Linked DNA regions of Homo sapiens: region 1 is linked to region 2. Evidence: fine-mapped expression QTL. A gene starts in region 2. The other region holds a variant in brackets. All regions are shown on one strand. Distances are between the middles of the regions. Region 1 has its middle 19 kb from the start of LIPC. Region 2 holds the start of LIPC (lipase C, hepatic type).

What was found. PIP is the estimated chance that this variant, and not a neighbour inherited with it, causes the effect.
Region 1: its variant is fine-mapped to the expression of LIPC in whole blood (INTERVAL, PIP above 0.99).

Annotation. Positions count from the first base shown.
Region 1 is chr15:58,406,720-58,418,509 of GRCh38, forward strand. No RefSeq gene overlaps it. Among named protein-coding and RNA genes, the nearest start is that of LIPC, 19 kb to the right of the region's middle. RefSeq lists a silencer at 3,751-4,045. The variant A/G (reference allele first, on the strand shown) is at 4,570.
Region 2 is chr15:58,425,947-58,437,736 of GRCh38, forward strand. It overlaps LIPC (lipase C, hepatic type), which reads left to right and starts at 6,045. Exons shown (of 9, transcript NM_000236.3): 1 at 6,045-6,174. The coding sequence starts at 6,087. LIPC-AS1 (LIPC antisense RNA 1) reads right to left here. Exons shown (of 3, transcript NR_120338.1): 3 at 8,955-10,966. RefSeq lists an enhancer at 4,064-4,358 and a silencer at 4,064-4,358.

The DNA.
Region 1 (11,790 bases), 19 kb before region 2:
GACAAGGATCCCTGCTTCATTTAACTTTCCCGTCCTCTCCCTCCACCCTCACTATCCCCACCCCATCTCCTCAGCCTGCACCACGCTCCCCCACGGACTATGAAGAATGCAGACTCACAGGGAGTTTCATAGTGTTTTCTTGCAAAAGTACTGAGTATAGCCAGATTTCTCATGTGGATTTTTCACTGGTTTGTTTCTGTTAGGCAAAACGGAAGGACAAGGGTTGATGGAGAAGGGAGGCACATCTCATACAGCTTCCTCACAGCAGGTCCTAACACTGTCCATTGTGTTTAGAATGAGCCTTTATGTGGCTTTCCATGGGTTTCTGGTGAAAAATCACAACCCTCTCTGAGACGGAGATGCCCCATCACCTGTTCTTTCACTGCATTATTTTCTGTTTCACTGCCTCAAACCAGACTCAGACCTCCAGTGCTCTTTATTTCAATTACTTTTACCTGTTTTATGACATCTATTTGGGTTTAACTTTTGGTTCCTCCACCAAAAAGTCTGAAATTCCAGGTCAGAGTTCTCCAAGGAGCTTATATGTGTTTGCACAAACATGTGGAAATCCTTAGGAACTACCAATTATCAACCACTCAGAACTCAGTGCCTTGGTATTTTTTGCTGTTGTGGAGGCTTGTGTTTACCTTTTATTTTAAGCACTTTCCAGCCCATCCTCTTGAAGCACCTGGCCTTACCAGGGGCCTTGCTCATTTGTTCTTGCTGCCTCCTCCATTCAGAAGACCCATCAATCAGTGTCTGAAACAAGGACCTTCTGTGTAGAATCAAAAGCCACCACATCACAGCTGAAGGCAACAGAATGCAGTGGGCATTGTTGTTTGTACACAGGCCTTCGTCTCTTTCAGAAGTGTCTCTGTTTGAAATGAATGAGGCAGACAAGAGTGTGGCTTCAAAAGCAACTCTCCCCCTCTGGGCTTTGCTTATTGAAAGTCCTGTGAGCACTGTTACTAGAAAGTAAAGAGAATAAAAGGCAAACCTGAGGCAGGCTACAGGTTCCCAGGCAAGGCAGTCACATCCAGCCTCAGCCAGGCAGTACCGCCAGTCATTGGCCTTCACTTTGTCTATTTGAGTTTGCAAGGTTAACATGAAAGAGGCTGTTTATTTTCTCCCAACGATTATGCTTAAAAATTACATGAACTTCCCTCACCGAGACCCTTGCCCAGATGTACAACAGGCTTCTCTCTCTGCCGGTACCTCTTAAGGGTGTCATTGCTGATGGAACTAGAGCTACCTTCACTACTGTTGCCATGGTTACACTTTCTGTACCAGAAAATTGGCTGATCCTTGGCCCAGCTCTCCCACCTGGCTATCATCTCCTCTGCAGCAGGAGGCCTCCTTATTCCCTGATCTATTTTGTGTTTGGCTGGAAGATTGGCGAGCACATAGTTTTCCATGGTACTCATGACCCTTCTGTAAACTCTTAATGACCCTAATGTTGATTAGGACCCAAAGTCTTGGGCCAGTGGAAAAGTTAAAACAAAGTTCAAGACTCATATAGATGATGATCCCAATAATCATCTACATGGCTTGAGAATCATCACCTCCATCTTTTGTCTGCAGAGGGTTTGCAATGAGAGCTAGAGAGTTCAGAGCCAAATATCTGGCCCATCACTGGGAAGTATAAAAGACTGTACAACATATATTTGAAGTGTAATTTCATTTATCAATTCACTATATTTTTCCCATCCTTTTTTCCTACTTAATTTTCCTCTTAATGTCTTGCATTGTTTTTATCTTTTAAAAGTGCTTTAAATTCTTTTGAAGCAAAACTAAATATAAGGAAAACATAGGCATAATCATCAAAAATCCATTGGATTCTTGCTATTATGAGGGGAGGGGGAAAAGTACAAAGGTTTTTCTGTCCAAAAAGAGACAATTCACTTAATGCAAAGTACCTGGAACATATTCTGTGTAAAATCAAATCGAATAATTTTATATATATTTTCTTTTGAAAAAAATACACGATTAGATTCAAGAAAAATTGAATTTCTGGTACAAAGGAGGAATAAGGACATGGCCTTCCTAATCCAAGAAGCTCCATGAATAACTAGGGGCCTGCTTTCTTTCACACAAGAAAGCTGGGTAGTACTTTCAAAAACCTGAGATGGATGGGGCACAGTGGCTCATGCCTGTAATCTCAGTACTTTGGGAGGCTGAGGCGGGCATATCACTTGAGATCAGGAGTTCGAGACCAGCCTGGCAAACATGGTGAAACCCCATCTCTACCAAAAATACAGAAATTAGCCAGGCATCATGGTGCATGCCTGTAGTCCCAGCTACCTGGGAGCCTGAGGCAGGAGAACTGCTTGAACCTGGGAGGTGGAGGTTGCAGTGAGCCAAGATCGCACCACTGCACACTAGCCTGGGAGACAGAGCAAGACTCTGTCTCAAAAAACAAAAACGAAAACACAACCTGAGATGGACCATGTGAGCAGGTGATACCATCAGGGAGTGCTCAGTGTGTTCTAAAAATCGCAGTGTCTGGCACACAGCAAAAGCTTCACAAATATACACCAAATAAACAAGGAAAATAAGTAAAAAACATTATGCCTGCATGCTAAATAAATTCACAGATAATCTTCAAATTAACCTGGGTAGAAATGATTTAGCAATACTGAGAAAAGTGGATGCTATCAAGGGTGTTAGTTATTTTAATCCTCTTGACAACACTTTTAGATATTTTTATCTCCAGTTGTTTTTCAGATGAGATTGAGGAAGATTAAGTAATTTGTGCAAGACCACATAACGAGCAAGTGAAAGACCCAGGACTTGAGCCCAAGGCTTTCTAATTGTAAAAGTAGAATCTATCCCCTCAGTCTACTCCACTGTTGCCCAAGCTAATGTTAAGAACACAAATCCGGCTGGGCACGATGGCTCATGCCTGTAATCTCAGCACTTTGGGAGGCCGAGGTGGGTGGATCACTTGAGATGAGGAGTTTGAGGCCAGCCTGGCCAACATGGTAGAACACCGTCTCTACTAAAAATACAAAAATTAGCCGGGTGTGGTGGTGTGTGTCTGTAGTCCCAGCTAAGCAGGAGGCTGAGGCAGGAAAATCACTTGAACCTAGGAGGTGGAGGTTGCAGTAAGCCAAGATCGCGCCACTGCACTCCAGCCTGGATGACAGAGTGAGACTCTGTCTCAAAAAAACAAACAAACAAACAGAAAAAGAGACCACAAATCTGAGGCCCCATCCCAGACCCACTGAAGCAGAATCTCTAGGGAGGAACTTAGAAACATTTGTGTAACAAGACACCAGATGATGATTATTATCAGAGAAGTTTAAAAAAAAAAAAAAAAAAAAGACACCTCTATTGCATCAGATGGGAAATGGACCTACAGCATCCTCTGAGGGATCAAATAAAAGCCATCAGATTTGAAGTTCATACAAGTAAAAATAAATCAGGTCAGTCTGGAGCATATCAGATTATGATATTATAGACTATTCTTCAGTTTGGTAATATAGAATTGTCTGATTTAAGGTTTTCTGGATCTTAAAATACCAAGAACATTTGAAAAGTTAAAAATGGGTTCCAATTTAAACCTCAGACTTTTTTTTAGCTTTCCTCACTGCCTCTGATCCTGAGGAGCAGAAGTGAATGTGAACGCACTTTGAATTCCTAGCAGCTTTCACTGATGCAGAGGTTCCAGCTGTACAGGGGCTGGAGGACTGCTGAGGAGAACAACAAGCTGAGAATCAGTCCTCATCTCTGGTTGCCCCCCACCCCACCCTCATTGCCTTTCATTGGATGAGCAAGTCACACAATCCAGGAAGTGGAAAATCTATCATCGCTTGGTTGGTTTTTCTTAGTTTCAGTTTTTCCACGCCTGATGAGAATTGCCAAGGCACAGCAAAGCCTGCAGCTTCCATACCCGTCATGAGAGCAAATAACTTATTTGTAAACCTAAGCACTTAATTAACTAAATGGAAAGCAAGGCAGTGAGTGATTCCTGACATGGCCGAATTTAAGTCAAGCTGTGAAGCTCCAGGTGCAGCCAGAAATGGAGATGGACAACTTGAACTGAACCCTGAGAGCTTCTAAAAAGGCTTTGGACCACTGCTTCTCAGCAGTTTTTCTTGTAAGTTATTCCCATTATCTCAAAGAAAAATTTAAAATATGGTTGGAGAAAAGTATAGAACTGATTATCCCCATTTTGAGCATAGATCATCGTTTAACCAACTTGCTTTCTAACTGCCAAGAAACTTGCTTTGGATGGTATTTCCAGACATAATGTCTATCATAGCAAATATTGACAATTGCATTTTACAAATAATCAGTTTAATATGCTTTAATATGCTTCTATTTCTGATTGCTCTTGATCTCATTTAATCTTCGAAGCAACTCTATCACGTTGGTGTGCTTATTAACATTATTTTACAGATAAAGACGCCTGTAAGTAGCTTCCTCACAGGGTATTTAAGGAACTTGTAGAAAGTCCACAGCTAGTAGCTGGGAGCCCATCTCATATCAATACACTAGCTTCTCCCCAAAGAACTTTATATATTTAGGCCATTGATTTCTTTTTTTTTTTTTTTGAGACGGAGTCTC[A/G]CTCTGTCACCCAGGCTGGAGTGCAGTGGCAACATCTCGGCTCACTGCCACAGCTCCACCTCCCGGGTTCACGCCATTCTCCTGCCTCAGCCTCCCGAGTAGCTGGGACTACAGGCACCCGCCACCAGGCCCGGCTAATTTTTTGTATTTTTAGTAGAGACGGGGTTTTATCGTGTTAGCCAGGATGGTCTTGATCTCCTGACATTGTGATCCGCCCACCTCGGCCTCCCAAAGTGCTGGGATTACAGGCGTGAGCCACCGCGCCCGGCCTTAGGCCATTGATTTCTAAAAAGACAAATTCTCATATTGGATTAAAACATAAGACCCAACAATACGTATGTTGCTTAAAAATAGGAATCTGTTACCCAAAAAATGCAGAAATGCTAAAATAAAAAGGTTTAATGAGGAAACTCATACGACAAAAAGAAAATAGTTGGTAAAGTTGATAGCATATAAAAGAGATTTTGAAGCCAAAAACACAGGGAGAGGATACAAAGAAGCTCCTGATTATGATAAAAAATAGAAAATCAACTGTGAAGACAGAGGTTACTAAAGTCAGAAATGCAAAGAGAAATAGAATAAAAAACAAGCAATTGTAAAGGGAGAGTTTAATTCATTTCAAGGCTAAGAAAAAAATAGACAAGAGTAAAAAATAAAGACAAATTTAAATAGACAAAAATTTAGAAGACATTGAAGACGTGACAAAAATAGACAATAGAGGTTATGTTATACAATTGATAAGTTAGAACCAATAGACATACACTGAACTCAATACCAACATAGATTACACATTTTTTTCCATATGGGGGCATTGGTACATATATACTAACTCTCAAATAAGGCCCTAAAAATTGAATCAAGAGGAAAAAATATACATATTTTCTCACCACATGCAATAAAGCTAAATGTGAATAAGTAAAAGCAATGAAAGGAGCCTTGGGCAAAAGAATAATCTAACCAAGAGCCTTTGCAGCAAACAGTTCGGGGTTTAGATTATAAACTACATTCCTTACTGCAGTGTGACCTGGGCAGTTTACTGAACCTCTCTGAACCTTGGATTCCTCATCTAAAAATGAGGCTCTACCTTGCAAAGTTGTTATGAAGATTACCTATAAGTATGTCAAATAAACTAAGACTTAAAAGAGAGTTAAAACCGTAAGCCGTACAATATAACTCCATTTTTAATGTACTCATATTTAACTAGAAAAAGTATCTAGAGTTTTTGTCGATTGAAAGCAAAAGTCTATAAAATATTCATCTAAATACTAACAGTGGTTATCTCTGTGCACTGATATTTCTGCCAATTTTTGTTATATTGCTTTATCTTTTCTACTATGAATATATAGTATGTGAATAATAAAAAATAGTAAATTTGAAAATAAACATGAACTTCTGAAAAACAGAGTACAAGAAGAAAATAAATATTTACTCTTGGGTGGCCTACAGATGGTGGTTGCGGTAGGCATACAGCCATCTCAGTTTCTTGTCTGTCATTGTAAATTCTAAAATACCCTCAATTTCTGTCTTTCTACATATATACACGTATACGCACACACATATATAAAACACACATATATTTTATATTTATATATGTTTTATATATATGTTTTTAATATATGTTTTATATATATTAAAAAACACAATATTGGGATAACTGACAATTTGAATGTGGATGGTGGGATTAATCATATGGTATCATGAAATTTCCTGATTTTACTGTTAAATTTCTTGAATTTTATAAAAGAAAATATTTGTGTCCAGAAATATATATTGAAGTATTTAGATATATATGTATGTATGCAGCTTACTCTCAAATTGTTCAGAAAAACATTCACATATCCATAAAGACAGAGTGAATGATAACTAGGGAAAAATACAAACCAACAGTGCACCTAGGTAAAGGGTGTATAGGAGTTCATACTAGTCTTTTAACATTTCTGTAAGTTTAAAATTATATTAAAATATTAATAAAAAATTACAGCAGCAACAAATTAATGGGTATCAATGTCTAACAACCACAAAAACTTTCCTAAACTACAAGTTCAAGTAGAACAGGGGTCTCCAACCCCCAGTACCAGTGTGTGGCCTGTTAGGAACCTGGCCACACAGCAGGAGGTGAGCAGCAGAGCTTTATCTGTATTTACAGTCGCTACGCATCAGTCACATTCACACTAAACTCCGCCTCCTGTCAGATCAGCAGTGGCATTAGATTCTCATAGGACCACAAACCCTATTGTGAACTGTGCCTGTGAGGAATCTAGATTGCATGGTCCTTATGAGAATCTAATGCCTGATGATCTGTCACTGTCTCCCATCACCCCCAAACAGGACCATCTAGTTTCAGGCAAACAATCTCAGGCCTCCCACTTATTCTACATTACGGTGAGTAGATTATAGTTATATCATTATTTCATTATATATTAACAATGTAATAATAATGGAAATAAAGTACACAATAAATGCAATATGCTCAAATCATTCTGAAACCATCACGCATCCACCCCCATTCATGGAAAAACTGTCTCCCACAAAACTGGTCCCTGGTGCCAAAAATGTTAGGGACCAGTGAAGTAGATAATTAAGAACATGATAACAACTTTTGAGATGTTTATAAAATTGAAAACACCCCATATCAAAAGGGAGGGGGCTTTGTATAAATCAGAGCCCAGAAGTTAAGGCGTAAATCTATGTGCTTTTATTTTAGAAATATGAAATAAACATTTGACTTAAAATCTTATGAAGACAGTCAATATAAAGGAAAATAGATAATAATAAAGAGTAAGGACAGAAATAAACTAGAAAAGAGGAAATCAGTGGAAATAATACATAAATTTAGATGCTCATTCTGTGAGAAGATTATAAGATAGATCAATCCCTTGGAAATACAATAAATAAAAGAAAAGGTATAAATCAACAAAATTAAAAACAAGGCTAGTGATTTAACAACCGATACAAAAGATTTTAAAATATAAATGATTGCAATGCAAAATTTATGATAATCAACTTGAAATGCTTAGCCAAATGGACAACACAAAATATTAACTGGCAAGAGAAAATGTAGATAACATGAAAATAATGATGAAGGCAAAGGAAACTGAAAAGCTGTTATTTAAAAAAATCTCATCTACCACAAGAAATATTATGACCTCAACAAATTTACTGAACAATATTACTACATACTCAAGAAACAGATTTTTCTGTATTATGTAATCAGTTCCAAATCACAGAAAAACAAGATCTGATACCCAATTCATTCTAAGAGATGAGTATTATCCCCATCCACAAACCTGTGAGAAATACCACACAGGCGCACACACACATAAACACACGGTCTTAGGATGGCAAATGTGCACAAGTGCCAATTCCTATAAAACTGGCTCGAAATGATTAGAACCAGGCTCAAAGATATTAGCAGATTTTCCCAAAACAGCTGCTGAATAAGTGAATATATGAATACACAGATGAAGAAAATAATGCAGGCAATTAGCAACATCTACTAAAGACCTAAAAGGCAGGAATGGCTTGTGCATACTGTCTATTTGCTAAATTTTATTGATCAATAAATTTTATCTATCCATGGGTTACTCAAGGAGCATAGGCAGAAAAATCATTTTTAACTGAGCTTATAAAATACAGCTATAAATTAAAACAATAGCATGTAGCCACTAATTAAGGTAAATTCTACTGATGCCAGAAGATTATAACAAATCACAGAATATCTTTTGTAAAGGAATTACTATTTGGGCTGGACCCAGTGGCTCATGCCTGTAATCCCAGCACTTTGGGAGGCCAAGGCTGGTGGATCACAAGGTCAGGAGTTCAAGACCAGCCTGACCAACATGGTGAAACCCCGTCTCTACTAAAAAATACAAAAAAAAAAAAAAAAAAAAAAAATGGCTGGGTGTGGTGGTGCATGCCTGTAATCCCAGCTGCTCACGAGGCTGAGGCAGGAGAATCACATGAACCCGGGAGGTGGAGGTTGCAGTGAGCAGAGATCACGCCATTGCACTCCAGCATGGGCAACAGAGCAAGACTCCATCTCAAAAAAAAAAAAAAAAAAAAAAGGAAAATTGAAGAAATGAAGACATTAAGGATATTCCTGAAGGGAAAGACTGTGTAAATCTCATTAAACAAAAATGTAAACTCTGTGAAACAAGACATTACAGGCGATATGAAAGATAAAATGCAAACTGGGAGGATATCTGCAATGAACTAATAGAAATAAGGACAAAAGATATGAATAAGCTATTCTCAGCAACAGAAATTTGAATGAACAATCACACACGTAAGAAAATGTTCAACCTCACCAGTAATCAGAAAATTTAAAATTAAAACAATGAGATACCATTTTACATCCATCAAACTGGTGAAAATTAAATAATCTGACACTCCTCAAGTGTTGGTGATGAGGTGGAAAAACTGAAGGAACACTCACATTTTGCCAACGATACTTTCACGGAAGTAATTTATTTGAAGAATAAATTGTCAACATCTTACTAACTCTGATGGGACATATATCTTACAATCCAGCAATTTCACTTCTAGGAATAAACTCTAGAAGCTTTCACTTGTGGATGATGCAATGTCTACTGCAATATTGTAATAGGAAAATGAAAAAACTAAATAACACAAGTATCCATCAACCCAATGAACAAATTCTGATACTTTCTTAAAATGGGACCATTTGTAGGTGTTTTATCAACAGAGATAAATCTCGAAAATACACTGCTGAGTGACAAAACAAGTTGCAGATAGATGTGTAGAGTATAAAAGTTTGAAAACATACAAAATAATGGTACAATCATCCCTCTATATCCATGGGATTCCACATCCATAGATTCAATCAACCGAGGATGCAAAATATTTGGGGGGAAAATTATACAAAATTCCAAAAGGCAAAACTTGAATTTGCCACATCCTGAGTACCATGTTAAAACCAGGCAAATGAAGGGATGTATAGGCATTGTATTAAGTATTATAAGTAATCTAGAGGTGATTTACAGCATATGACAGAATGTGCATAGGTTATATGCAAACACTACACCATTTTGTATCAGGGACTTGAGCATCAGTGGGTGGTCCTGGAACCAATCCCACACAGATACTGAGGAACTACTGTATATTTTTCGTAGCTACATACATATGCTGCAAACATATACACACAGAGATGAGAATGAAAGACACCAAACTCAGGGTGGCGTTGCCTCTGAGACAGGAAAAATAAGATCAGGCTTGAGAAGAGATACACAGTTATACAGGTACAGCACTCTATTTTTTAGCAAAAATAGGAAGCAAGTACAGCAAAATATTAGGATTTGATGGAGCTGGGAAGTAGGTGGTATTCAAAACTATGCATTATACGCATGCGTGTGTTTGAAATCATTATAATTTCTTAAGTGAGCACCTCAGTTTTTACATATAAAAACATATAAAGTATGTAAAATATATAAATATCATGAACAGATAATTCATAAAGAAAGAAAAAAGGCAATAAAAATGGAAGTGGTGGTAAATTCAACTTCAACCCATTGGTTTTAAAGAAAAATTTAAAAATGCACATACCATTTTGGCTTATCAATTTAGCATAAAATTACAAAAATGTTAATAGCTAATGTTAACAAGGGTGGAGGATAGGACAGAGGAGGAGTACACTCACTGCTAATGAGTACTTAAAATGACAGAAATTTACTTAACGTAGCAGTGTATATGTAAAGGCAAAATATATAGGTAGATATAGATACCTAGATATAAAACCTTTGCCTTAGCAATTCTACTTTAAGAAATTTATACAAAGGAAAACGTGGTACATATATGATCTGTAGTATTATTTTTAAGGAATACTACGCAGCCATAAAAAAGAACAAAATCACATCCTTTGCAGCAACATGGCTACAGCTGAAGGTCATTATCCTAAGCAAATTAACACAAAAGCAGATAAACACTGCACGTTCTCACTTATAAGTGGGAGCTAAACATTGAGTACAAGTGGACATAAAGATGGAAATAATAGACAGTGGCATTCTAAAAGGGGTGAGAAGGAGAGGGGGACAAAGGTTAAAAAAACCTATCGGGTACAATATTCACTACTTGGGCAATGGAACCATTAGAAGCTCAAACCTCGGCATCACACAATATACCCATGTGACAAACCTGCACATGTTCCCTCAGAATCTAAAATTTTTTTAAGCTACTAAAAAAATAATTTATACAAAGAAAATCATACATGTGGACCAAGATTTATGCATATGTTTATAATAGCATTGTTCATAATAGTGTTATCTTAAATACAGTTAATGAAAAAACAATAGGGAATTAAGCCAATTATGGTACATCTATAGAGTGTAACTGTACTCTGTAGCTATTTCAAATAATGTTTTAAAAGAATATTTAATGCCCCTGAAATATGCCATTAATGTGTTGTTAATACACAGGTATTTAAACACTTTGTACAGTGTGTTTACAGTTATTTTTTTTAAATAATTGTATACATAGAAAAAATGACTTGGGGATATCCACATCAAAATGTCAACAGTGCTTATCTCTAAATGTGAAATCACAGACCTATGTATGTTTTTCTTTTTGTTCTTCTTTATTTTCCTATTTTACAATAATAAACATTTATTGATTTTATAATAGAAAAGTTATTAAAAATAAAACGTGCAACAAAATAAGCTTTGGTTGATTAAAGATTTAAATATAAAATCAAATTATGATAGAACTTGCAGACAACTGGAAAGAGAGTTTATCAGCTCTCTGGGGTAATTTTAACTTTCTCAGCTTTGAAGCAATTGAAATGATTGCACTATAAAAATTAGCATTACTGAAGATTTTTTAAGAGGGAAAATATTTCTATCAAACATTACAAAGAATTAAGATCCATCATAAATAACTAATTCAAATTTGTAAAATAAATGTCAAGATTCCAAAAGATAAATGGGTCAAAGACTGGACAATTCCCATAAGGGGCATACAATTAGTAGATAAACATAGTGGGGAAATGTTAATTCTTGCCAGAAATCAAAGACATGTAAATGGAAGCAGTCTGGAGATGCCAGTTTACATATTCTAATGGAACAACAAGAAAAAATGTCAAATGCTAATATCCATTGATGGTGGAGCTACCCAGAAATTTATCCATACCTTCATTTATAACCATATTGTTCATGTCCTTTTACCAGAAATGTTACCACTAAGAATTGATTCTTTTTTTTCTTTTCTTTT
Region 2 (11,790 bases):
AAATATCTGTTTCTTCTCTCCTAATTAACTTTCTTATCACCATGACACTAAAGAAAAAGGTCATTCTCAGGTCATCAAATGCCACTCTCTTGAAATCTTTATTTATTCAAGAAGCTCTGTAAATTAAGACAGAGCAAGAACTGGGCAATGTTTAAAAACCTAATTATAAAACCATTATTACTTTAGATAGAGGACTGCAGACCAGAGTGCAATGTCACCCAAAATAGAAACGTCTTTAAAGAATTGCAAAGGAAGAGGCCAGGCATGGTGGCTCATGCCTGTGATCCCAGCATTTTGGGAGGCTGAGGCAGGCAGATCACTTGAGCTCAGGAGTTCTAGACCAGCCTGGCCAACATGGTGAAACCCCATCTCTACTAAAAATACAAAAAAAAAAGCAAAAAAAAGCCAAGTGTGGTGGCACACCCTATAATCCCAGCTACTAGGGAGGCTGAGGCATGAGAATCACTTGAACCCAGGAGGCAGATGTTGCAGTGAGCCGGGATCATGCCATTGCACTCCAGCCTGGGCAACACAGCAAGACTCCATCCCCCCAAAAAATAAATAAATAAATAAAAGAATTGCAAAGGATGAAGCCACAGAGCTCTGCTAACATGCACCATGCTGATCACTCCATTGGAGGCTCCAAACTCTAAGAGGCTCAGGCTTGCCTCCTCTTTAGCTAATAGGAAATGAAGAGGCCTCAAGAAACTGCTGGGCTTCCTTGGGCATGGAAATGACCAAAGATGCTATGAATGGATCTATTGACTGCTCAGATGCATGGCTGGAGTCAAGCACATGACAGTCAGGTCTGGCAGCCCTGGGAGCCATTCTGTCTCTCTAAGGCAGAGGCTTTACCCATTTTTTGACAACACATCTTATCCCCAATATCTATTTATTTGTTTATAAATAATATAGCACTAGTATATTCCGTAGTACCACCTGCAAATTATATAGTACTTATATGCTATAAACATTATACGTGCACAAACATGAACTGTCTAAGGAAATACAAAGAAAAATCTGAAAGGTCTATATTATTTTCTTCTTTTGCCCCAGAAGATCTCTCAAGCACCATTCTGAGGCAATGGTTCTCAAACTTTGTGTAACCAAGAATTACTTGGAGATCTTGCTTAAAATGAAGGTTCACTGGGCCTTGACCCTAGTGTTGATTCCATTACTCAGTATTCCTGGGATGGGCCCATAAGTTGTCATTGTCTGAGCTCCCCAGCTGACTCTTATTCTCATGCTCAATTGGATTTTGCAGCCACTGATCCAGACCCTTGTGTTTTCCTGCCCCTTACATTTTTTGCTACAATTATATCACTGTGGTCTTATTGTTATCTACCTCCTGGACACCTTCGTGATCCCCTCAGTGAATTTAAACATTAAAAAAAATTAGCTACCATTAATTATTTCCTGTGGCCTAGGATTGCTGAGGGCTTCACATGCATTGCCTCACTTAATCAGACTAGGGAGGTATTATTAGTCCCATTATACAGGTGAAGAAAACTAAAGCTCAGTCACAATGTCTTATCCAAGTTCACTCAGCTAGTAAGCACAAGTGACAGACTAGGAATTCAAGCCTGTATCTGTCGGATTCCCAAGGCTGGACTCTTTTTTTTTTTTTCTTTTAGAGATAGGGTCTCACTCTGTCACCCAGGCTGGAGTGCAGTGGTGTGATCATAGCTCACTGCAGCCTCCACCTCCTGGGTTCAAGTAATATCCCTGCCTCAGCCTCCCAAGTACCTAGGACTACAGGTGTGTGCCACCATACCAGGCTAATTTTTTGGTTTTTATGTTTATATAGATGGGGTCTTGCTATGTTACCCAAGCTAGTCGCAAACTCCTGGCCTCAAGTGATCCTCCTGCCTCAGCCTCCCAAAGCACTGGGATTACAAGTGTGAGCCACTGCCCACTGCACCCAGCCTCAAAGCATGGACCCTTGACCACTAAGTATATTGCCCACAAAATAGGTCATTATAATTTATTGACCCTCTACTATGAACCAGGCACTTGGCTTGACACCTTACACACAAATCTCTAATATTCATGGCATACCTCTTTTCCTAGAGGTATTAATTTCAGTCCAGAGATTCTGATGTGCAATAAATTTCTCTATTCTCTGTAACCCATCTAAATTCCTGACTCTTAACCCCTATTTTCAGGCCTTCTGGATTTCTTCTCCCCACCCCACCCCCAACCCCAGTAGTTATGCCATAGTTCTGGACAAATACAATAGCCAGGCATGGGGTCAGGGGAGTGTGACCTAGTCCTCTGTCATCAGTCCACATTGGTGGCCACTGAGGGGCCCATCCTCCCATCAACATGACCTGCTGGCCCCAGAGACTCACTGCTCTCCCACCCTACATCAAGCCAGGTATATCTTTTGCCCATGTGCCAACACAGCCATTTCCTCCCTGGGTTCTTCTCTTCCAGCAGGATTTCTGGGAAGCAAGGTACTGTCCCCTCTGCTCTCAGACCCATAGACAAACCTCCCCCTTCCACACCACCTGCAAAGCCCAAGAGAATGTCTTTCTAGTGATGGCAAGGTGAGGGGTTCCTTCTCCCTTCACATCCCCTCAAGAAATGTTAGTCTTTTGCTTTTCTTTGTTGGCTAGAATTCACCTGCCCACACTTTGGGAGGCCAAGGCAGGAGGATCACTTGAGCCCAGGAGTTTATGGCCAGCCTGGGCAACATAGGAAGACCCTGTCTCTAAAATAAATAAAATAAAATAATATAAAATAAAATAAAATTCACTTGCCCTAAGGTCCTATATTTTTGGAAGACAAAAGATTTGTAGCCTTCTCTCTACTTTGCCCCTCTTAAGTGGAAGGGAGACAGTTTGGGAGAAAAATAAGTTGATATCTCAAAATATTATCTCAGATACATGTTGTCCCCATTTTATAGGTGAGGAGATTGAACTCATTAAGGTTATATAATATTATATACAGCAAGTAGATAGGCCTAGGACCCCCCCAGTTCAGGAAATCTCATACTCTGTGAAGTCCTCCCCTCTTCCCTGCCAGTAGCCTCCCTGGTCAGCTTCAAGAAAACACAACAGAGCTTGTGCATTAAAACCACCACTGGAAGGTCAGACCCGGTGATGGGGCAGGCTGGAAGAGCTTAGGTAGAGGTGAAAGCAGACAACACCCTGAAAGGGGACAGGTACCCACTCCTCCTTGTCATTTTCCAGGAGAGCCTTATAGAATTTGAGTTGGCATGAGATGATGTTAGAGGAATTTGGGGTGGTGCAAGTAAAGGAACTACAAGAGCTAGAAACAATCTTGAAGGCTTCTTCCCATGTTGAAAGTGTTCTTACCACGTAGAAAGTGGTAAGAAAGTGTACTCTGCAGAAATTTGGGGGGCGGGTGGGGGCACACGGTTGGTATTTCAGAGGCACTTGGATTCACTGGTGTCTTTTGATGAGTTTGTGTCCCGAATAAAATGGGGAGTGGCGGTGGTTACTGGCAGTACCCAGAGGAGAGGAGATGAGGGTGGGCACAGGGGAGAGGAGCCCGAGATGGGTAGCCAGCTGGTCTTACGTGCCAGCTTTATAGGAAAAAAAGTGGAACTTTCAGATTCTGCTTAACTGTGCAGGAGCCAGCCAAGTATCCAAGGCAGAAGTCCTTGCTCAGAAATTGTATATCTGATGGGCACGGTGACTCACGCCTGTAATCCCAGCACTTTGGGAGGCCGAGGTGGGTGGATCACAAGGTCAGGAGTTAGAGACCAGCCTGACCAACATGGTAAAACCCCGTCTCTACTAAAAATACAAAAATTAGCCAGGCATGGTGGTGGGCACCTGTAGTCCCACCTACTCTGAAGGCTGAAGCACTAGAATCGCTTGAACCTGGGAGGTGGAAGTTGCAGTGAACCGAGATCGCGCCACTGCACTCCAGCCTGGGCGACAGAGCAAGATTCCATCTCAAAAAAAAAAAAGAAAAAGAAAAAGAAATTGTATATCTGACGGGATGGTCCGCAAGCTTCGGGGCTTGGGAGGAAGGTACAGTCATAGGACAGAACACAGCTTTAGACTGGGTCAAGATCGTCCAAGTCTGGTGGTGGCTTCAGAAGGCCCTTTGAATGAGGCTCGTCCAGGCAATAATTACCATGTTATCTAATTTTGCCCGCTTAACGTTTCCACTTGGATGTCTAAGAGCCATCTCAAAGCCCCACGTGGCCAAGGCTGAATCTCTAATCTTCCCCCAACAGACCTGCTTCACTCACAGCTTCCCCTTCTCAGCTGACAGCAACCCCATTAATCTGCTTGTTCAAGCCAAAAAACCTGGAAGTCATCCTTAACTCCTCTCTTTCTCCCACATCTCACAACTCAGCAGTCAGAAAATCCTGTGGGCTCTACCTTCAAAATATATCCACCACCCATCCACCACTCCGCAGTTGCCCTTTACCATGCTGGGCCACGCCACCATCACCTCTCACTGGGCCACTGTAATAGCCTTCTAACAGATCTCCCCACTGCACCCTGGCTCACTTGCAAACCAGAGTGATATTTTAAAACTATAATACAAATCATATCACCCTTCTGCTCAGAGTCGCCCCCCATGTGTCAATGCATAAAAGTCAAAGTCCTTACAATGTCTCCCCATTCATTGGCCTCCTTGCTATTCCTGGAGCACACCAGGCATACTCCTACCTCAGGGCCTTTGCACAGACTGCCCGAAGCTCTCCTCCCCAAGACGTCCACAGGGGCAACTCCTTCACTTCCTTCAAACCTTTGCTGAAAGTTTAACTTCCCAATGCAATTCACTCTAACCACTCTGCTTAAAATCCCTACCTTCTCCCCAACCCCCTGCTTTTCTTGTAGTGGTTCCCATTACATTCTACCAGTCTACCTAATTTTTTTTTTTTTTTTTTTGAGACGGAGTCTCTCTGTGTCGCCCAGGCTGGAGTACAATGGCGCGATCTCAGTTCACTGCAACCTCCGCCTCCCAGGTTCAAGCGATTCTCCTGCCTCAGCTTCCTGAGTAGCTGGGATTACAGGCACTCACCTCCACGCCCAGCTAACTTTTGTATTTTTAGTACAGATGGGGTTTCACCATGTTGGTCAGGCTGGTCTCGAACTCCTGACCTCGTGATCCGCCCTCCTCGCCTCCCAAAGTGCTGTGATTACAGGAGTGAGCCACCGCTCCTGGCCAGAAATCTCTTCTTTATTATGTCTACTGTCCGTTATCCAACTCCAGAAGGTAAGAACCTCCACTGATACATAAGGACTTGTATACCCCACGTGCCTGCAACAGTGCTTGGCACCTAGTAGGCATACCAAAATATATAAATGTTGAACAAATGAAGAAAGTTAAAGTAAAACTAGAGGTCCAAAAATATCACAAAAGCCATCTATGGTCGCCTTTTCCCTACCTGATTTTGCTGAGTGGCCTTACTTTTCAGTCCTCTACACAGCTGGAACATTAATGAACACAGAGGGGGAAGAAGTGTGTTTACTCTAGGATCACCTCTCAATGGGTCACTTGGCAAGGGCATCTTTGCTTCTTCGTCAGCTCCTTTTGACACGGGGGTGAAGGGTTTTCTGCACCACACTTTGACCACAAGCATCACCAATTTCACTGAACCCAACAGAAATTTGGACCCTCTGGGGGCTCTCTGCGTGGCAGGGCCCTTTTCTTTTTCTTTGGGCTTAGGCTGCAATTTGAAACACCACTTTCCTGAGCCAGCATCCCCCTTGCAGCGCTGTCACAGGGAGGCTTAGGCAGCCACGTGGAAGCCACCTACCCCGACCTTTGGCAGAATTTCCAAACACAACACAGTAGCTTTAAGTTGATTAATTTGGAACTCTGACCTTGGCCCCAAAAGGTAAGAATACATAACAAGGTATTTTATTCTCAAAATGTGTCAGGATAAGAAGCACTTCTGTAAATCGACCTTTTTAAAATAGATATAATTAGATTTGCAGTTGGGGGCAGTAAAGAAAGGGTCTGAACAGTGGATAACATGTTGAGAGGTTAATTATTAATGGGCAGTCTTCCCTAACAAAGTATCTAATAGGCATTGTGGTCTCTTTGGCTTCAGAAATTACCAAGAAAGCCTGGACCCCGGGTGAAACGGAGAAATGGACACAAGTCCCCTGTGTTTCTCCATTCTGTTGGTTTTATGCATCTTTATCCAATCAAGTGCCCTTGGACAAAGCCTGAAACCAGGTAAGAGCCTGACTTTTCTCCAGAGATGGGCATGAACTTTTCTTTTTAAAACGTGTGTCACAAAGAATCCAGGGGTTTCTGACTGTATGGGACAGAGCTTGCTTCAGAGCGTGCCAGGTGGTTCTATACACGACCTCACAGGTTCACAGGGACACGTAGCCGTTTGTAAACAGAAATGAAATTTTAGAAAATCATCCTCGGATTAAAAGTCTTCTAAGAGTGCCTGCAGCTAGCAGTGAAGTCTCTTGCGTATCTGATATGGAAACAGTCATGCTAAAAGTTATTCAGCGGCAAATGATATGAAAGCGATTCAGATCTTCCTGAGAGTTAATGTGGCATCTAATTTGCAACCGGGGAGCCAGGCTTGCAATGAAATGCTCTGTCGGGTTGGGGTTGTCTAATTGCCTGCCTCTCTCAGAAGAGAGGGGAATTTATGAGAGTTCTATTTCCAGTCAGGTCTAAAGTAGAGATATCATTGCACAATTTCTAGACTTTGTTTTGCTGCCAAAATTTTAGTCTGAGGCTGAAGAATCCAACAGCCGTCCTGCCTGTTTTGTTTGTAAATTCACAAACTAGATTGATGGCGAAAGACAGATCAAATGCCTTATCAGGAAGGTAGTAGAGTGGAGCCCAGCTTCCAGGCTAAGCAGTGGACCAATAAATGACGGATCAGTTAATTGAACAATTTGGCCAGACTAGACAGGTGTTTGGGAATTTGTTTTGGTACTGGTTACTGGTCAGGAGCTAGTAACGCTAAGGTAGAGTCTGAGATTTTTCTTTTCTCTAAGACTAGCCTTGGAGAGAGCTCCGACAACTTTGAGAATTAGAAATTCCCTAACGGGATGTACCTAAAAATTTCAGAAGCTTTTTTCCCCTTTAAGAAAAAGGCTGTTCCTTTGTATTTGACTATTTTACTTCATAGGCCAGTTAATAACTGAGTAGCAGTATTAATTATTGCCATTCACTAAGTATTTTCTGTGCCAAGCACTATACTAATTATTTTTGACACATCATCTCATTTATAAAGCCACATCCAAAAATGACCCTTACATAATAATTTAGAGCCATACAGGTAAAATTGCTGGTAATCTTTATTCCCTTGGTTCATAGTGATTTTGCTAAAGGGCCTTTCCTGCCCTTTGCCCCGGAATGTTGTATTTGTTTGTTTACTTTTTAATGAAGTTTATAACACACTTCTAGAAAAGGGCCTCTATCATAAATCCTCAATGAGTTCTCACAAACTGAACCAGTACCCCAAAGCCTTCCTTGTGTGCCCCTTGAGCCTTAACATATATGATTTTTTCCTTTGGGGAGATTTTTCATTAATAGAAACACATCAGTTGCTCTTTTGCGTCTGGCTTCTTTCGTTCGACATTATGTTTGTGAAAGTCAACCATGCAGTTTCGTGGAGTTGAGGCTCATTCATTCTCACTGCTGTAGCATTCCACTGCGGGACCATGCCACACTTCCTTTATCCATTCTACTGTGGATTGGCCAGGACTGTTTTTGCAATGGAGCCATGGGAATTGGAAGCTGTCAGTGCTGAGATAGAGGTTGAAGGGAGGGATGGCCTCCCCCAGGCTTCTGGGTATTGTCCAGATTTTCCTTGAGCAATCTCATTGTCCTGATCAGCCTGCTTCTTTCCCCGGGGCCTAGTTTGTGCAAATGCTGAGAGAAGTGGCCACTATTAGCAAGAGGGTTCCTCAGAAAAGAGGATCCAAGTCAGGAGGCCTCTTGTTCTCTTGGAAGCAGAATCTCTTGGCAGAATTCTTTCTGCAATGAGTGAGCCCAATCTGTGTGCATGTGGCTGGTATGATGTCTTTCTGGGGAAACCGCAGGGAAGCCGGTGTCCTGTGGTGGAGCCCTTGTCAGGAAAGTTTCTACACCAATGGTTCTCAACAGGGGCAATTTTGCCCTCCAGGGGACACTTGGCAATGTCTGGAGACATTTTTGGTTTTTGGTTGTTAAGACCAGGGAGAGAGTGCTTCCCTTCCAGCATCTAGTGGGTAGAGGCCAGGGAAGCTGCTTCACATCCTACAATGCACAGGACAGCCCTCACAACAATGAATTGTCTGGCCCAAAACATTATTAGTGCAGAGGCTGAGAAACCATGATCTATGCCAAGCTTCAACTGTCACTCATCGAGCACCAGGAAGTACTCCCTCAAGGACCCTTCCTCTTTAGCCCCTCCTCCCAGCCTACTTCTTTTGAGTATTTATTATTAATGACATCTTACTAATGGAGTCACTAATGTGCTGCACACCCAGCATGTGCCAGGCACTCCACGGACATTTTATCTCATCCTCACCATATGGTTGAGTAAGCTGGCAGTTAAGTGCCTTGCCGGCGGTCGCATAGCTGGTCAGGGCAGAGCAGGGAGAGGTACCTGCAGCCTCAATCTGTCTACTGAGGCCGCAGTGCTCTGTGTCGAGCCCACACCCAGTGATTTGACAGCCAGAGGTTTCTAGAAAAACATTCTGCTCAGTTCCTCTCACAGAGAGGGAGATTTAGACAGTTGTTCCTGCCCTTCAGCACTAAGGGGGACTGGATAGCGTGAGCTGCTTGAAGCCCACATGGCACATCACACTTATGCCCAGCCCCAATGCCTGAGACCCAGGTTCCCCAGTCGGTGTTGCCATGAGAGCCAACGCTGCTCCTAGACCCTGGCAAGTCCCACCTTCCCGGTACTGGGCCCACTATCAACAGGCACCTTCTCCCTCCCCTCCACCCCAGCCTCAGCTTGCAAATCCTAGGAGCAGCTGAAAGCTACCTATTCAGTCAGTCCCTCATGAGTGTCACAAGCATACATGAGCACCTGCCATACGTAACGCAGTGCCTGAGTACAACTCACACACTCTGTTCACACGTTTCCTCTCTTAAAAATCACTGAGGACCCCAAACAGTGTTTATTATGTGAGATATCAATATTTCCTTCATTAGAAATTAAAACTGAGAAATCTTTAAAATCTGCTAACACTTTTTAAAATGATAATAAACCCTTGCATATTAACACATATAATGTAATTTTATGAAAAATAACTTGTATTTTCCAAATAAGTTTTAAATGGAGAAGAGTGACATTGTTTTACAAAGAAATGTTGCAAATCTCTCTAATATCTGGCTTCCCAAGACAGCTGGATTATCTTACCTGTTTCTGTACTCAGTCTGTTGTGATGTATTGCTTTGTTTGAAATGTAGGAAGAAAATCTGGCCTCCCATAGAGGAAAAGGGAGGACATCCTAAGGCGATCTCCCTGGGGCCTTGGCCTGCAAACCACTGCGCTTGTGCAGTGGGCACTGTACAACAGGGGGCTGCACAGCCGTCCCCACCTTGCAGGAATTTACAGTCAAATGGGGTGGGAGTGGGGTGGGGAGGGAATAGGGGGCCATGGGACTGGGTGGAGGGGGGATGTGCCATCAATAAAAGAGCAACCGTCTGTGGAGAATTTAAATACAAATATAACCAAAAGCTGATCTGCCTGTCATTATCACAATTATAAAGAATGTCAGCCGGGCGCCGTGGCTCACGCCTGTAATCCCAGCACTTTGGGAGGCCGAGGTGGGTGGATCACCTGAGGTTAGGAGTTCAAAACCAGCCTGGCCAACATGGTAAAATGCCATCTCTACTAAAAATACAAAACATTAGCCAGGCTTGGTCATGGGCACCTGTAATCCCAGCTACTTGGTACGCTGAGGCAGGAGAATTGCTTGAACCCGGGAGGCAGAGGTTGCAATGAGCCGAGATGGCGCCGTCGCACTCCATCCTGGGCAACAAAGTGAAACTCCATCCCAAAAGAAAGAGTATCAGCGATAAAGGCAAAGCTCTTTCCAGAAAAAAATGGTTTTATGGCCTAAGTTCTAAACAATCTCCGTGGTTACTGTTGGATTTTATGTAGTAAGTATATGTAAGCTTCAAATTCATCACATCTTTATTATTTATCCTTTCATAAATATTGTGTTCTACATTGACATTAATCTGGAGAACTCCCGGTTATGCACTTGGCCCCAACATGCACAGACTCAGGGGCGTGTTCTTGTTGCAAGAGTAAGTGTGCGATGGTTCAGATCCTTTGACGTCCTTATGTCTCCAACCTCAGTGGCACTTATTACCTGCTTCTGCATGTAAACAGTAGATTTGAAACAAAAAATGATAGCGTAGTGGTTGTACAAACAAAAAACCAGAACTTGAATTATTTCAATTCTCTCATCCTAGGTGACCCCTGTAAGCTTCTCATATGTGTTTAAAATTTAAAGCAACAAAACAGATTGTGAACAATGAGTTGTAACATCTTGTTTGATAGGTAAAAATTTGGACTCATACGAAAAATATTTTTACTGCATTTGAATATCTTAAAGTTAAAATGTATTTGTCTTTTTAAAAATTGTTCACTGCTTTATAACTAAAGAAGAAATCGAGAAAGTAGTGATGATTGCTGATTTTTACATAAATATGACTGAAAATACTTTTGTCTTATAGAGCAGAGGGTCATTAAAATGATCCGTTCTGTGTGTCAAATACATGAGGTATACCACTGAGTCACATATGTAAATGTTATCAGCTAGAACAGAACATGGCATGAGATGAGGACCATGAGAGAGGAATGAGTAGAGAAGCAGATTTTACTTCCAAGTGGAGGGAAGAAGGCTTCTTGGAGGAGGCGGCATTTGAGTAGGGTGTTGAAGGATGGTATCCGGACAGAAGAGAATGAGGCTTTCCTTGTACAATAGCAGAGGTACACAGCTGATAAAGTACATGTGCTTTTCAAGCCCAAATACCTTTCAAAAAAGACCATCTAGGAAGAAAAAGAAAAAATATCCCATAGAACGGTGTTGATAGCAACACTTGTTAAACTGCAACAAACTGGAAACAATGTGAATGCCCAAGTGCAAACCACTGAAGTTGGGGACTCCAGCTACTGCTAAGTCCAACTTCGAACAGGCATGGTTTTGAATACCTACTACTAGAAGTCACAGAAACTTTTGGGGGCAATAATGATGAAGTTCAGAAACAAAAGCCTATTGCTGGCCCCTAAGCACTCACAGTTTAACACCAGGGATCTTAGCACAGAGGATGGGTTTCCAAGAGTCGTTGAGCCTCCTGAGATGGTGCCCAAGGCTGTGTGTGTGTGCATTTTGAGTGGGGAGCAGGTGTCATAACTTTCAGCAAATTATCAAAGGGACCTGTGACCTCTGAAAAAGCTCAGTAACAACTGGTCTTGCAGCTTTGTAAAACAAGTATAAGAAAATTGTATATGCAATAATGTAGGGAAAAAAAAACAGGACTAAATAATCTACATGTTGAATCATAATTATGAAAACACTGTAGACACATGCTGTATATTGCTAGAGATTCTAAGTATATTTAAAGATATATAAAGGGTTTTAAGGTTTGGAGGATTTAAGTACTTAAATGTACAAGAAAAATAAAATAAAAAGGCCCTGATCAGCTACAGTTAGATTGGTCATCCCAAGACGACCCCCGGGAAAGGGATTTTCCACTGTCCTTCCGACCTGCCACCAGCACCCAACTTTGCAGGTTCAGCCACACTCAAAATCACTACCCCAGCAGGGTCTGTCAGATTTCTGAGAGGCCTCCACAGTTACATGGAATGTCACC